Linked DNA regions of Homo sapiens. The protein of the gene in region 3 interacts with the protein of the main gene of each other region in a pairwise test. Each region holds a gene or a part of one and is shown on either strand. Other genes may lie near its edges.

What was found. Proteins that work in one complex are often made in the same cells at the same time.
Region 1: the proteins of TPP1 (region 3) and ASB6 interact in binary tests that used the Homo sapiens proteins (3 or more experiments, as listed by UniProt).
Region 2: the proteins of TPP1 (region 3) and FBXL4 interact in binary tests that used the Homo sapiens proteins (3 or more experiments, as listed by UniProt).
Region 4: the proteins of TPP1 (region 3) and ZBTB38 interact in binary tests that used the Homo sapiens proteins (3 or more experiments, as listed by UniProt).

The regions. Positions count from the first base shown.
Region 1 is NC_000009.12:129,636,629-129,639,151, forward strand, and holds part of ASB6 (ankyrin repeat and SOCS box protein 6), read right to left. Parts: intron 2,032-2,523; coding exon 1,945-2,031; intron 1,830-1,944; coding exon 1,162-1,829; 3' UTR 1-1,161. UniProt on the Homo sapiens protein: Probable substrate-recognition component of a SCF-like ECS (Elongin-Cullin-SOCS-box protein) E3 ubiquitin-protein ligase complex which mediates the ubiquitination and subsequent proteasomal degradation of target proteins.
Region 2 is NC_000006.12:98,871,491-98,874,946, reverse strand, and holds part of FBXL4 (F-box/LRR-repeat protein 4), read left to right. Parts: intron 1-505; coding exon 506-669; 3' UTR 670-3,456. UniProt on the Homo sapiens protein: Substrate-recognition component of the mitochondria-localized SCF-FBXL4 ubiquitin E3 ligase complex that plays a role in the restriction of mitophagy by controlling the degradation of BNIP3 and NIX mitophagy receptors.
Region 3 is NC_000011.10:6,616,623-6,620,558, reverse strand, and holds the start of TPP1 (tripeptidyl-peptidase 1 preproprotein), read left to right. Parts: upstream 1-1,136; 5' UTR 1,137-1,158; coding exon 1,159-1,175; intron 1,176-1,291; coding exon 1,292-1,363; intron 1,364-1,643; coding exon 1,644-1,783; intron 1,784-2,782; coding exon 2,783-2,933; intron 2,934-3,130; coding exon 3,131-3,258; intron 3,259-3,405; coding exon 3,406-3,584; intron 3,585-3,699; coding exon 3,700-3,898; intron 3,899-3,936. UniProt on the Homo sapiens protein: Lysosomal serine protease with tripeptidyl-peptidase I activity. May act as a non-specific lysosomal peptidase which generates tripeptides from the breakdown products produced by lysosomal proteinases. Requires substrates with an unsubstituted N-terminus.
Region 4 is NC_000003.12:141,375,004-141,378,503, reverse strand, and holds part of ZBTB38 (zinc finger and BTB domain-containing protein 38), read right to left. Parts: intron 1-3,500. UniProt on the Homo sapiens protein: Transcriptional regulator with bimodal DNA-binding specificity. Binds with a higher affinity to methylated CpG dinucleotides in the consensus sequence 5'-CGCG-3' but can also bind to E-box elements (5'-CACGTG-3').

The DNA of each region.
Region 1 (2,523 bases), on a different chromosome or scaffold from region 3:
AGAGGTCGCAGTGAGCCGAGATTGCACCATTGCACTCCAGCCTGGGTGACAGAGTGTCTCGAAAAAAAAAAATAATAAAATGGGACCTCCACACTGTGGAGGCCCTTGCCAGTCTAGAGTGGTGCTTCTTTGCAGGGACTTGGAAACAACCCCCCAAACACAGCATCCCCTCACACCTGCCACCCACTTCCTTACCGGCTGCTGTGGGAGCCTCTATCCTGAACTATGGAGGGGCGGGGTGGAAATTTTATATAAGGACCTTGTTAAGGCCAAGAAAGTCAGTTTAATCTTATAATATAAATATATCATTTAGTCACCTCAGCTTATCCCCAGAGGTGTTTACACAATTCCCAATGACCAGTGCAGCTTGGAAGGGACTGAGGCTCGCAAGTGGGTGGCACAGTCGGCTCTTCAGTGGCTCCAAAGTGAGCCCCTCACAACAGGAGACACTTCAGAGAGGTCTGTCCCCAGCCACGCACTCATGATTGCTTTTTAGCAGAAGTCATGGTCGCTGAGGCCCTGGGTTTGGCAAAAGCACAGCTGCCAGCAGAGCACAGTTCTGGTAGGTGGGGCCACGGCTGACCTGGCCCCAGAGCTACAGGAACAGGCAGGGGCCAGCTTGGCTTGCAACACCATGAAACAAGCCTGTGGGGCCCTTAGTGTCTTCTCCCGCAGAGCCCACCAGAAACACTTCTGTGAGTAACAGAACCTGGAAGGAAAAGGGGCAGGGGTGGGGCCTTGGTGGCACCGCACAGGACGTGCCCCAGGCTTCCTCTCCAGCTGCACTGCCACGTGCGGCCAACAAGAGCCCCGCAGCCCTGGGGTGCTGAGGCTTGGTCCTTCCCAGCTTCTGCAAATGCCCTGGCACTGCCCTCCAATTCAGAGGGTATAAACATCAATCCAAGCCCTGTTCCTCTTTCCAACATGGGGGGGACTTGGAGTGCCGCTGGAGGGAAGGGGGCAGTCTCTCTGGAAGAACCAGAGCTGCACCCTTCACCACTGGAGTGATCACAGCTTCAGGCTCTACCTGGCTGGCTTTTCTCATGAAGGATCCCGTCTCATCTCCCAGATCAAAAAGACCCTCTTCTAATGCTGTCCCAGCATCTACCAACAGGCTGACCTGAGCTGCCCGTGTCCCCCGTTCCTGTAGCCTGAGACCTATCAGATGTCATCTTCCACGGAGCCACTGTGCTCGCTAAGGAGGTACCACTTCAGCCTGTCGGGCAGAGGCAGGGCTTTGACCTTCACATCCACAGGCCACGGCTGAAGGTAGAGCCGGATGGCCACACGGCACAGGTGCTTGAGGGGCGGGGGATAGCTCTCCAGCTGCCTCAAGGAGAAGTGGAGGGCCTGGATCTTTTCCGCCAGGCTGCCCACAGGGTGGATATCGAAGTTTTCGGGCAGCTGGAGTTTCTGAGAGTTGGTCACCATGAGATCCAGGACAGTCTCAGCTTTGCGCAGGAGGTCCGCATGGCTCTCGTCTTCCGTGCAGCCTGGGTGGGAACAGAGCCTCTCAAAGATGATGTGAAAGCCAGACCAGCAGGACGCACCGTGCAGGGAGCAGTTGTAGGCGGCTCCGGACTCCAGGAGGAAGCGCAGGAGAGGGAAGTGCAGTTTAAAGCTCTTCAGGCAGATGTGGGTGAGGGACTCGTGGGCTGGGCACTCGCTGGGGTCGGCCCCGTGTGCCAGCAGCAGCCGTGTGACTTGGAAGCAGAAGCGGTTGATCATCTGGGCCTCCTCTTTGTCCCCTCCCACGGTCTCACCAAGCAGGAAGATGATGCAGGTGAACACTGTGTCCCCATCTTTGGTGGTGGCCTTGACGTCTGCCCCTAGAAGAGCCATAGAACAAGAGATGCTGGGAGAAGGCCTTCAACCCTGGCAAAGCAACAGCACACATCGAAGGGGCGGGTGAGAGGACGAGGCCTAGGAGCGCGCCAGCCTCACCTCCTTCCAGTAAGAGACGAATGTTCTCAGTATTGTGGATCTGCACCCCGTCGCTGCTGGCCAGAGCATGGAGCAGAGCAGTTTTTCCTAGGGAGGGAGGGAGAGCAAGGAGGAGCAGGAGGCCAGGAAGCCCAGGTCAGGGCAACCCAGAGGAGGTGGCAGAAATCCAGACACTCAGAGGATCAGAAGATGAACTTTCAGAGACAACTCTCAGCTCAGGTGAGGGCTGAGGGTGACAGGCTTCTGGCCATTCCCTTTCCACCCAGAGAAGTGGGAGCGGAAAGGCCAGGAAAGGTAGGATTTTTCTGGACCCCAAGATGCTACCTGAGATGTTGGCTGGGCCTCTCCCAATGGGAAGCCATTGTTTCTTGGAAACTAAGTGCACACATGCCCTATTTCTTCCTATAGAAGGCCCTTGAGGGCCAGCACAGGGACAATGACTGCACTGCCTCTCTGAAGCCTCTGAGCTCAGCAAGTCAGCAGAATCCCTGTGTGCCCAGCCATGCTGTGCCACCAGCCAGGGCCAGCATCCAGTCTGCCCACCTAGCTGTTGTCCTGGGGCACCCTGGGTGTCCCCCA
Region 2 (3,456 bases), on a different chromosome or scaffold from region 3:
TTCCAGCTCTGGGATTTCTTGAATCCTTGCTGCATTCATCAGAAAGGAACCCTGTGTAATTTTGTTGCTTCTTACTTTTAGCCAGGGGTGCTAGCAGTGTCACAGTAGTTATCATTGTCCACACAATTGATACTTTGTGAAGTCATATCGCACTTGCACATTTTACATCAAATGCATGGTGAAAACCATTTTGAACTGGGGTGACAGAAATAGGAAAGTCTGGAGGAGCTGATTTGAAGGGGTAGGAGGTAGGAATGAAGATAGTGGGTAGGATATTGGCAAGATTCAGGTCCTAGATGCTAAATTGGCTGGAAAATTCAACTTTTACTTTTTTAACAGAACCATTTCAATATGAAGTCATGTTTGAAAAAATGATTTTAATTTGTAAAGGGTTATTTTAAGTTCATTACAAACAATAAATCATGGATGGATTCATTGTTAGCACATTATATAAATGTTATACTTAAGGTGTTTTGTTTTGTTTTGTTTTGTTTCCCTTAAATAGGAACAAGAATGGTAAGTCCGGCATCCTTAAGAAAACTCCTGGAATCTTGTAAAGATCTTTCTTTACTTGATGTGTCCTTCTGTTCGCAGATTGATAACAGAGCTGTGCTAGAACTGAATGCAAGCTTTCCAAAAGTGTTCATAAAAAAGAGCTTTACTCAGTGACTTAATATATGTTCTGTATTAAAATTAATGTGCTTTGTTGGGGTTTAATTTTGGGATTGGTTTTGGGTTTTGTTTTTAGTTGTTTTAATGGTAAGAATTAAGACATTTGTAGATTTTAAAGAAAAATATGAAATTGTCCATTAAATCAAGTAAAAATGTGCACAAATGTTTTCATAAAATACTGCAAGCACTTCTCTTCAAGAATATGAGTGGATATTATTTTTACCTTATGTTAATCAGTGATATGCTTTAGTCAATAATATGATTGATAAAAGAATAACATGGAATCATGCTAACTTATTTTCAAAGGAACACTGAGCAATAAAGTATCGTGGCATTTATGCAAAAAAAAAAGTTAATTTTTTACACCTTCATGTAAGGATGTCTTATTAAGCCTGTGACCTGGCAAGTGTTTTGTTTGGTATGTACAAAATGGTCAGAGCTAGTTGGAGAATGAGACATGCTTTTCCAGCTGTTTGGTTATTTCTCTGGATTAACTGTTCAACTGGAAAATTTTTAGTTTTTCTAGCCAGGTGTGGTGGCACACACTTGTAGTCCTAGCGACACAGGAGGTGGAGGCAGGAGGATTACTTGAGATGGGATTTTGAGACTCTAGTGTACTTATGATTGCACCTGTGAGCAGCCACTGCACTCCAACCTGGGCAATATAGCAAGTCCCTTTCTCTTAAAAAAAATTGTAGTGTTTCCACTTTTCTTCTGATATTTTTGTCTATTTCACTACTGGATAATGCCAATATAAAAATTTGGGTATAATCAAGAATAAGAGGTAAACTACTAAATAAAAAAAGCTTTCCAACTGTTAGAAGCAGATGCCTTAACATTTTGTGAAAGGTAAAGTTTTGAGGTTTCTGAATTATATAAAAAAACATAAATGTGGAGATATATATTATATATACACATTATATATACATATTATAGATAATATATATCCACATTTATGATTTTTAATATATACATGTATATATTATATATTATATAATTATATATTACATTTATATTATATGTAATGTACATGTATATATTATATACATATATATAATTATATATATTATATAGAGAGAGATATATATCTTGCTAGGGTGTGTGGATGCTGGAATATAACGATTTTGCACTTAACAGGACAATGAATTTTGTTATACTACAGTTAATATTAGTTTTGTGTTCAAAACAGCTGTGCCTTTTCATGCCACAAAATATTTTCTGTCTACTTTCTGAGTAGCAGAATTAATTCATTTTTTTAACAAAACGATGTATGTCAAGTGTTCAGTAGTCACATGAGGAGAATGCTTCCTTTGTGCCTGGCACTGTTTCTTGTGCTTTGCATTGACTAATTCAATTCTCACAACAACCCTGTAAGATAAATGCCATTACTTACCCCCATTTACAGATGAGGAAACTGAGGCAAAGAAAGATTGAAGAATTTATTTATGATCATACAGCTGCTAGTGGCAGAGCCAACATATAAACCCAGGCCATCTGGCTTCTGAAGCATTGCATTAAACCTGTGCTTTTAGGTGTTCAGGGTAGCTTCTGGCTCTAGGGCAGAGGTCAGGAAACTTTTTCTATAAAGGGCCAGATAGTAAATATTTTAGGCTTTGTGGGCTAAGAGGTAAAACTGAGATTGTTATGTAGATACTTAAATAACTAGAGAGAAATAAAATTTGCACGAAAATTTTATTGACAAAATTCAAAACAATAATTTAGAACAATTTTTTTTGTAATACGGGTTTACTAATGAAAAGAATTAAATATTTACAGGGAGGATCAAAGTTAATGTTTCGTGTCATTAAAGTTGATTGTAAGTACTCATTTGTTAATGCTGATCTGTAATAAGATTTTATGTATTTTACTTCTGAAAATTCCTTGCAGATAGGTATTGTCAAATACTTACATTAATCCATGAGAATATGATTTTTGTTGAGCATATTCATCACTTGAAAGGTTACTTCTTCTCTGGATATTTTCCTTTTAGCATGTTATTACATTGCAGCTTAATCACTTCCAATTGAAGACTAGGCAGAAGCTCCTCAATTGCACTGTTAAATTGATTTTGAAAAATGGAAATTTCCTTTACATTTGCAAACTCCAAAAAATACTGCAGGCACTATGGTGTGAGCTACAAATTTGTGTGAGAGTGGAGATCTCGCTTCTTTGTCTTACCTTTTGATAGCACAGGAAATGTGTAAAGCAGCTTGTTGTTACTTGTAATTCAAACAATGTTGTCATCAAAATGACTTATGTTTTGCTTGTAAACACGTTTTGCCTTGTAATTTTGGCTTGAATTCATTTCAAAATTTTATTAAGTCTTGAGCAAAAGCTAAATTCCAAAGCCATTCAGTGTTCCATAATAGTGATTGAGGACATGTCTTCTTTTTCAGAAAAATGTCAATATCAGCCCTGAACGCAAAAGCTCACAATAGAACTAACACTATTATGCCAATGTGGTTGGGCAAATCAGCATATTCATCTTCTGTATCTGACAAAAGATAACTGAACCATTGATGTTTAATCTATCAGAAACTATGAGAGCAAATGAAGTTCACCATTGCTACCAGTAGTTCAGTAATACAAAATTGAATCAAATATATCCCACAAAGTACCTGCTGATGAATAATACAGTAAATAACCATAGATTTTAAATACCTTCTTACCTTTTCACAGGCTTTATAAATTTGACAAACGTAATCATTTTGCTTCACACATTTTTAACACCACCAGTTGTAACACATCTTAGCAGATTCTACTTCAGGTTGCATGAAATTTGTG
Region 3 (3,936 bases):
GCAGCCATGGGACTGGTTTGCTTAAGTGAAGTGAAGGTAATGCTCACTGGGTTTAATGAGATGAAGAAATGGAAGGTTAGGGTGTTGAATGGGTCTTTTACCTAGATATTTTGATCATCTAGGTCAAATGATCGCAGGAGTTGGGATGGACAGAAAGGTGAAGTGCCATAATCTTCAGTGTGGGAATATAATCTATAGGTTAATGGAAGCCAGTGGCCTGTAGGACAACAGCAGGAGTAGAGGGATCTATCTAAAAAGTATTGAGGTCAGAACAAGGGATTTCACATGAGTATTGGATTAATGGTTTTGGAAGTTAAAATGACACTGCTGACACCATCTTCCATATGGATTTTTGGGGGGAAAAAAAGGAAGACTGGAAGGGAATTGAATCCTCAGGGTTTTAACTCTCATTGAAAATCCTCTTGTAATGACCCCAGTTGGAAGTAGTAAACTCAGACCTCCTTGTGGGCTTTGAGTTACCATTAGAAGAAGCAAAGGTCCGTTTCCATTTTATCCACCTGAGCCCACTAAACAAGATGCAAGATTCCTCCATGGCCCTTAGAACAAAGTTGATTTCCTTGAAAACCTTGGGAACCCATAATAAACAGGACCCCAGCTGATTGTAGATCTCCTGGGAAGCTACTTAAAACTGGAAACTGATTTGAATAAAAGGATCCTGGTCTTGCAAAAGCTTTACTCTGTTCATAAATGTAGTCGTAAAATGAAGACAAAATTGATAATATGGGGACATAAAGGATAAAAGAGGAAAAAAATTTTTTCACTGCAATCTTTCGAGGCAGATCACTTTTATATAAGTCTCCATATTGTAAATGCAGAAACCTAGGCTCTGAGAGGTTATTTTGCTGATGTCATACAGCTAGGAAGAACCCCAGTCTGTGGGTCTCTACAGCCCACTCACTTGTGGTGATTCCCAGGGGACCAGGCTCAGGACGCAGGTGGGGAGCCCTGGGCTTACTCAGTGCTTGACTGGCCAGAGGGGAGAATCCGGGTGGCGGCCCCACCCTTGCCTAGCATTTGGGACCACCCATGCAAGGGAGGAGCCAGTACCGTCACTAGTTACTAGGCAGAGGGGTAGTGGTGGTGGAATATAGAGCTCATGTGATCCGTCACATGACAGCAGATCCGCGGAAGGGCAGAATGGGACTCCAAGCCTGGTGAGAAATTGAGAGGGCTCGGGAGAAAGGGATCACGTTGGAGGGAGCACACATTGGGAGGGTGGGAACACAAGGACAACGTAGCTCCCACTGAAACCCACCTGCTGCCCCTACAGCCTCCTAGGGCTCTTTGCCCTCATCCTCTCTGGCAAATGCAGTTACAGCCCGGAGCCCGACCAGCGGAGGACGTGAGTTGACTTAGCACAGACTGCCCCCTTCCCCATACCCTGTTCTGCCTCCCACTGTCCTGGTCCTAGCTTCTCTCACCCCCGTGCCAGCTCCTAGTACGCACTCCATAGCTTCATCTCTATGTTCCTAGCCTCAGTCCCCTATCATTCACCTCATGTGATCTGTATCTGCTCCTAGGATCCTCCCCAAGGTCTCAGCTCCTAATCTGGAACCTTCCATGACCAATATTTTCCATCTCCACCCTAACCAAAGCCATGTCCCTGACCCCTGACCCTACAGGCTGCCCCCAGGCTGGGTGTCCCTGGGCCGTGCGGACCCTGAGGAAGAGCTGAGTCTCACCTTTGCCCTGAGACAGCAGAATGTGGAAAGACTCTCGGAGCTGGTGCAGGCTGTGTCGGATCCCAGCTCTCCTCAATACGGTGCCTTTTGGGACTGAGGACAGGATGTGGGATGCGGTGGAGGGACACAGGGCTGGGTTGGGCATGGGATGGCGATCATGTCAGAGCCTGCCAAGACACTTGTGTTCCTCAGGCTAGAAACCTAAAAGGGGATGTGGTTCAGTATACAGGCTTTATGATCAAATACGAACTCAAATTCTGACTCTGCTACTTACTAGCTACCAGGCATCTAGTACAACTTACGTTCCTTCCCCTACCCTCAAATCCATTCTAATTTCCTCTTTTGTTCACATACTAAGGCTGCCAGTTCTAACTCCCAAAGAGCCTTTGGATTAATCTCCTTCTTGCCGTCTTTTGTTACGACCAACTCCGTTATTTATTCCCACTCCTGGACTACTGCCCAGCTCCCCAGCTGATCTGCAGTCTCCTCCCTCCACCCCACCCCTCACTGTACTCCCCCACTCTGCTTCAAAACAGTCTCTCCAACAGTCAAAATGGATTGGTTCCTTCTCCTGGTTAAAGCCCTTCACAGCAGGGGGAGTGTGTGCTTGTGAACTGCAGAGGCTGGGGACGGGGCAGTGTGACACTAGTGTGCATGGCAGGAAACAGTGACTCACCATCGTGTTAAGCTTAAAATCAACAAGTATGCAAATTTGAGCTAAACTGAATAACTGGTACCGAAAGATTTGAAAACATTTACCGGACATAAGCTTAAAATTAAAATGGAAAATTTATATGTATTAACCTCATTCATTTTCATGATCATGGCAATACATGCTGTGGTGCGACATTTGCAACTTACTGGCCTTTAGGGTAAATCCATATTATTGGCCATGGCATTTCAAGTCTCTCCAGCCTTTTCTTCCTCTGCTTCCCAAGTACACCCTACACCTGCACACATAGCCCTCCTTTACCCTGTTCCAGGCTTTGGGAAGTCCTGATGTCTCATAGTTGAGGTCCAAAAGGGGGAGTTTGGGAAAGCAATGAATGAGGGCAAGTGCCTCTTCTGAATCCCTGCAGGAAAATACCTGACCCTAGAGAATGTGGCTGATCTGGTGAGGCCATCCCCACTGACCCTCCACACGGTGCAAAAATGGCTCTTGGCAGCCGGAGCCCAGAAGTGCCATTCTGTGATCACACAGGACTTTCTGACTTGCTGGCTGAGCATCCGGTGAGAGGAAATGATTGCTCCATGGAGGGCACCAGTCATCCCATCAGTGAGATGGATGGGAGGGAGTTGAGAGCTTGCTGGGGCTTGTGGGTGGGAGCTAATGCATGGGGAGACAGTGACTGACTGCCCAGGGATGCTCAGAGGTAGCTTCTTCTGTTCCGTTTTGAGCTTTCTGACCTCTGTTCTCTGACCTCCAGACAAGCAGAGCTGCTGCTCCCTGGGGCTGAGTTTCATCACTATGTGGGAGGACCTACGGAAACCCATGTTGTAAGGTCCCCACATCCCTACCAGCTTCCACAGGCCTTGGCCCCCCATGTGGACTTTGGTAACACCTATGGGGTGAATGGGGGTTGGGGCACACAGATCCAGGGGCTGAGGAAGTTTAGATGCCATTGGGGACTGGGGGTGGGGTGAGTTGTAAGGTGGGCATTACAGTCTATAAGATCTCCTCAAGCCTGACTTCTCCCTACAGTGGGGGGACTGCACCGTTTTCCCCCAACATCATCCCTGAGGCAACGTCCTGAGCCGCAGGTGACAGGGACTGTAGGCCTGCATCTGGGGGTAACCCCCTCTGTGATCCGTAAGCGATACAACTTGACCTCACAAGACGTGGGCTCTGGCACCAGCAATAACAGCCAAGCCTGTGCCCAGGTGAGCCAAGCAAAGAGCCCCAGGGTCCTCATAGCCTCCCCACAGTGTCCTCAATTCCTTACCACCCTGGGACTCACCCTCGGACCCACGATCTCTGCTCTGACTCCCTCCATAGTTCCTGGAGCAGTATTTCCATGACTCAGACCTGGCTCAGTTCATGCGCCTCTTCGGTGGCAACTTTGCACATCAGGCATCAGTAGCCCGTGTGGTTGGACAACAGGGCCGGGGCCGGGCCGGGATTGAGGCCAGTCTAGATGTGCAGTACCTGATGAGTGCTGGTGCCAACATCTCCACCTGGGTCTACAGTAGCCCTGGTACTACCAAGAGGACTGGACAGTGGGGAAGGGGGTGG
Region 4 (3,500 bases), on a different chromosome or scaffold from region 3:
CACCTTCCCCCAGTGTTGTCTTACATCGCTGTAGTACTTGGGCTAAACCAAGAAACAGATGCTGGTATAGTTCAAATAAACGCAGATACAGTCTTATGTGATTTTACCAGTTTTTACATGCACTCTGTGTGTGTGTGTGTGTACCTGTATGTCTACAGTTCTATGCAACGTATCACATGTGCAGGCTGGAGTGATGACCATCACCATCAGAATAGAGAATAGTCACCACCACAGTTCCCTGTGCTCCTCCTCTGATAATCACACCCATCCTGACAACCACTGATCTGTTCTCTATCACTGTAATTTTTTTTTTTTTTTGCTTGTTGAGACAGGGTCTCGCTCTGTCACCCAGGCTGGGGGTGCAATGGCAAAATCATGGCTTACTGCAGCCTCAAACTCCTGGGCTCAAGCAGTCTTCCCATCTCAGCCTCTCAAGTAGCTGAGACCACAGGTGCACGCCCACATATCCCGCTAGTTTTGTAAATTTTTGTAGAGATGCGGGTCTCCCTGTGTTACCCTGGCTGGTCTCGAACTCCTGGGCACTCCTGCCTCAGCCTCCCAAAGTGCTGGGATTACAAGCATGAGCCACCGTGCATGGCCTATCACTGTGATTTTGTCAGTCCAAGAACGTTCTCTAAATGGAATCATGTAGCATATAACTCTTTGAGATTGGCTTTCAGCATAATGCCCTTGTGATCCATTTGAATTGTATGTAAAGAGCACATGCCTTTTTATTGCTGAATAGTATTTCAAGGTGTGGATGTACCAGTGTGTTACCCACTAACTTGCTGAAAAACATTTGGCTATTTTCCAGTTTTTAGGTATTACAAATAAAGCTGCTATAAATGTTCATGTAAAGTTTATTGCGTGAACATAAGTTTTCATTTCTCTTGTGTAAATACCCATGAGTAGGATTGCTGGATCACGTGGTAAGTATATGTTTAACTTTTATAAGAAACTGCCAAACAGTTTCCTAGAGTGGCTGTACCATTTTACATTCCTACAGGCAATGTAGGAGAGATCCAGTGTCCCCACATGTTTGCCAGCATTTGGTAACCTCAGTATTTTTTATTTAAGCCATCTACTAGATGTGTCGGGCTCCTTTTGATGGGCCACAGTCAAGAAGGCAGTTAAGCTCTGTGGCCTTCTGAGCTTAGCTGGGGTGACCTCAGATGTCTCTCATTGCTCCAGTTTTCCTGGTAGCTGTCTACACAGCAGTTTGGGCTGTCTGGCACTTAGGCGATGGAAAATGGGATGGTCTTTCTGGATGGGGGGGCTGAGTCTTTGGGTTTGCCCAGTTGCTCCTGACTGCAGTGGTGGGACATTGCTATCTGGGGATGCTGGGCCTCTTTGAGGCAGTGCCTCTTGGCCCAGCAGGAAGACTTGATACCAGTGGTACATGCTCCCATGGGGTAGGGCAGGTGAAATGACAGCTGTGGGGCAGGAACAGAGTTTGCCTGGGCCAGGGTCTTCCTGTAGCTTTGGCCAGAGGCTGTGTGAATACTTTTAATTTCTCAGGTTAGATCGTTATCAGCATAGTGTGAGAGGAAGTGGGACATGGAATCAATGTAGAGAGGCAAGGGTGGGACCACCAGTAGCACTTGTCAAATCTTGGGACCCACTGAACAATCTTTGCCCTTGAACTTTGTACTCTGTGACCACCCAAGACTCTCCAGCAGCATGTGGACACCTTGTCTGGATGCCATGGAACTCCTATTTTTGTCTCCTGTGGGTGAGATTTGGAAGCACTGCTGTCACCACCACATGGGCTTTCCTGGCCCAGGGGTCCAGGTCTCGTGAGCAATTAGAATGTCATCTGAGTATCAGAGGTGCTTCACTCAAGAAAGTTGTGCAGGACAACAAGGTGATGGGTTTTACATAAGGCAAACATTATAGTGAAGACTTGAACCGGCCCAGGCATTCTTGGAAAGTCACCCTCCATCTGATTCAAGGTACCTCTGGTTCAAGGGAGGTTGTAGACTTTTCCAGAACTCTTACTCATCATGACCCTGGAGCCATGAGTTTGGACTAGGAGGCCAAGAATCAGGAGAGTAGTGATCCTGAACAGGGATAACCTTGAGATAATGGAGACTTGCATGGGGCAGTGAAGCTTGGGGATCATCAACAAAATTCCCTGGTGGCTAAGCCCTGGGAGGATCCTGTGGAGGAGCTCCTTTGGGTTCTGGCTCTTGTGTGTCACCAGGTGCCTTTGCAGGGGATCAGCATAGATGTAGGCATGGAGGAAACTAAAGTTGATTTCAAGAACCTGAACGTGAACTGGGGCGGGTAGGGAGCTGAGCAGTCTGTCCAGGCAGAACTTGAAAGTCAAGTGATGCCTTGGTGGGCTCTGGAAATTGAGGTGGTGGGATGAGAGGAAGCCGGGCAGTCAGACACTGTCAGGTGATCAGTGGGTGTGGGTTGATGGGTTTCAGCAGGGTTATGCAGGCAGGATGAATAGTCAGACTTCCTCTTAGAGGATGGTGAGAGTTTAAAGAAAATGGTTTTTTGTTGCTATAATTGTTTTTTCCATTGTTTCCTAAATTTCCATTTTCAGGTTCCTCCTGCTCTGGCCTGCCGCCTCTCAGGCTGTGCTCCTACTCTCCTGCTGTCAGAAGGCAGCCCAGCACACAGCACCTTTCAGATTTAAAAAGGCAGGCACGGCTTGGGGCAGGTACCTCCCCTGACTGTGAGGTCACACAGTGGGACTCCATCCTTGAGGCCAAATCCTCAGCAGTTCCCCTCTAGCTCTTGCTTGTCTTCCTTTCAACTCATCCCTGCCTTGACCTCAAATTTGCCCACATATTTTAGTCTGGCACTTGCCCTGACCCTGCTCCGCTGTCTTGGTTTCTGACCCCAGATCCCACCTCCTACTCTGCTCTTGTGATGCTGATCACATGGATGCTGCCTGCACGGCTGCCCTCTGTCCTCCTGGGTCCAGCTTCTTCAGTGCTACCACCTCAGGGATCAGGGCACACCACAGTCTGGCCCCATTAGGTGACCAAGATGGGCACGTGGGCCCCTTGCTAGGTCTAGGCTGCCCAAGAGTGTCTTGAAGTACGGGCATGCCTATCTGAGGGCAGGTAAGAGCTCCTTGGCTGAGGCAGGGCGTTGCCTCAGGAGTGAATCTTCTCATTGGCGCCTTTTGTCTCTTACCTAAAGGTTGGGTGACTCTGGGCCCTTTGTCTAGTTCAACCTTTGCCATTAAATCTCTGAGTGACCACCAGGAAGTAAATGAACCATTATGGGCCTCAGTGATTTCATGTGTACAATATGGTTTCTTGATTCCCTAGCTAATAATCTTTTTACTACATCATATTACAGTTAAAGGAAAATCTAAAAATCAGAAGCCAAAAAAAGACTTTAAGTTAAATTCTGGCATAGACATACTAGCTCAGAGTTTCCTAATTTTTTTTGTCTAATAAATGTTTGCCAACTGAATATTTGTTGAACTGAATGCAGCATGTCAATAGTTCTCAGGCATTAATGCAGAAGAATTGGGA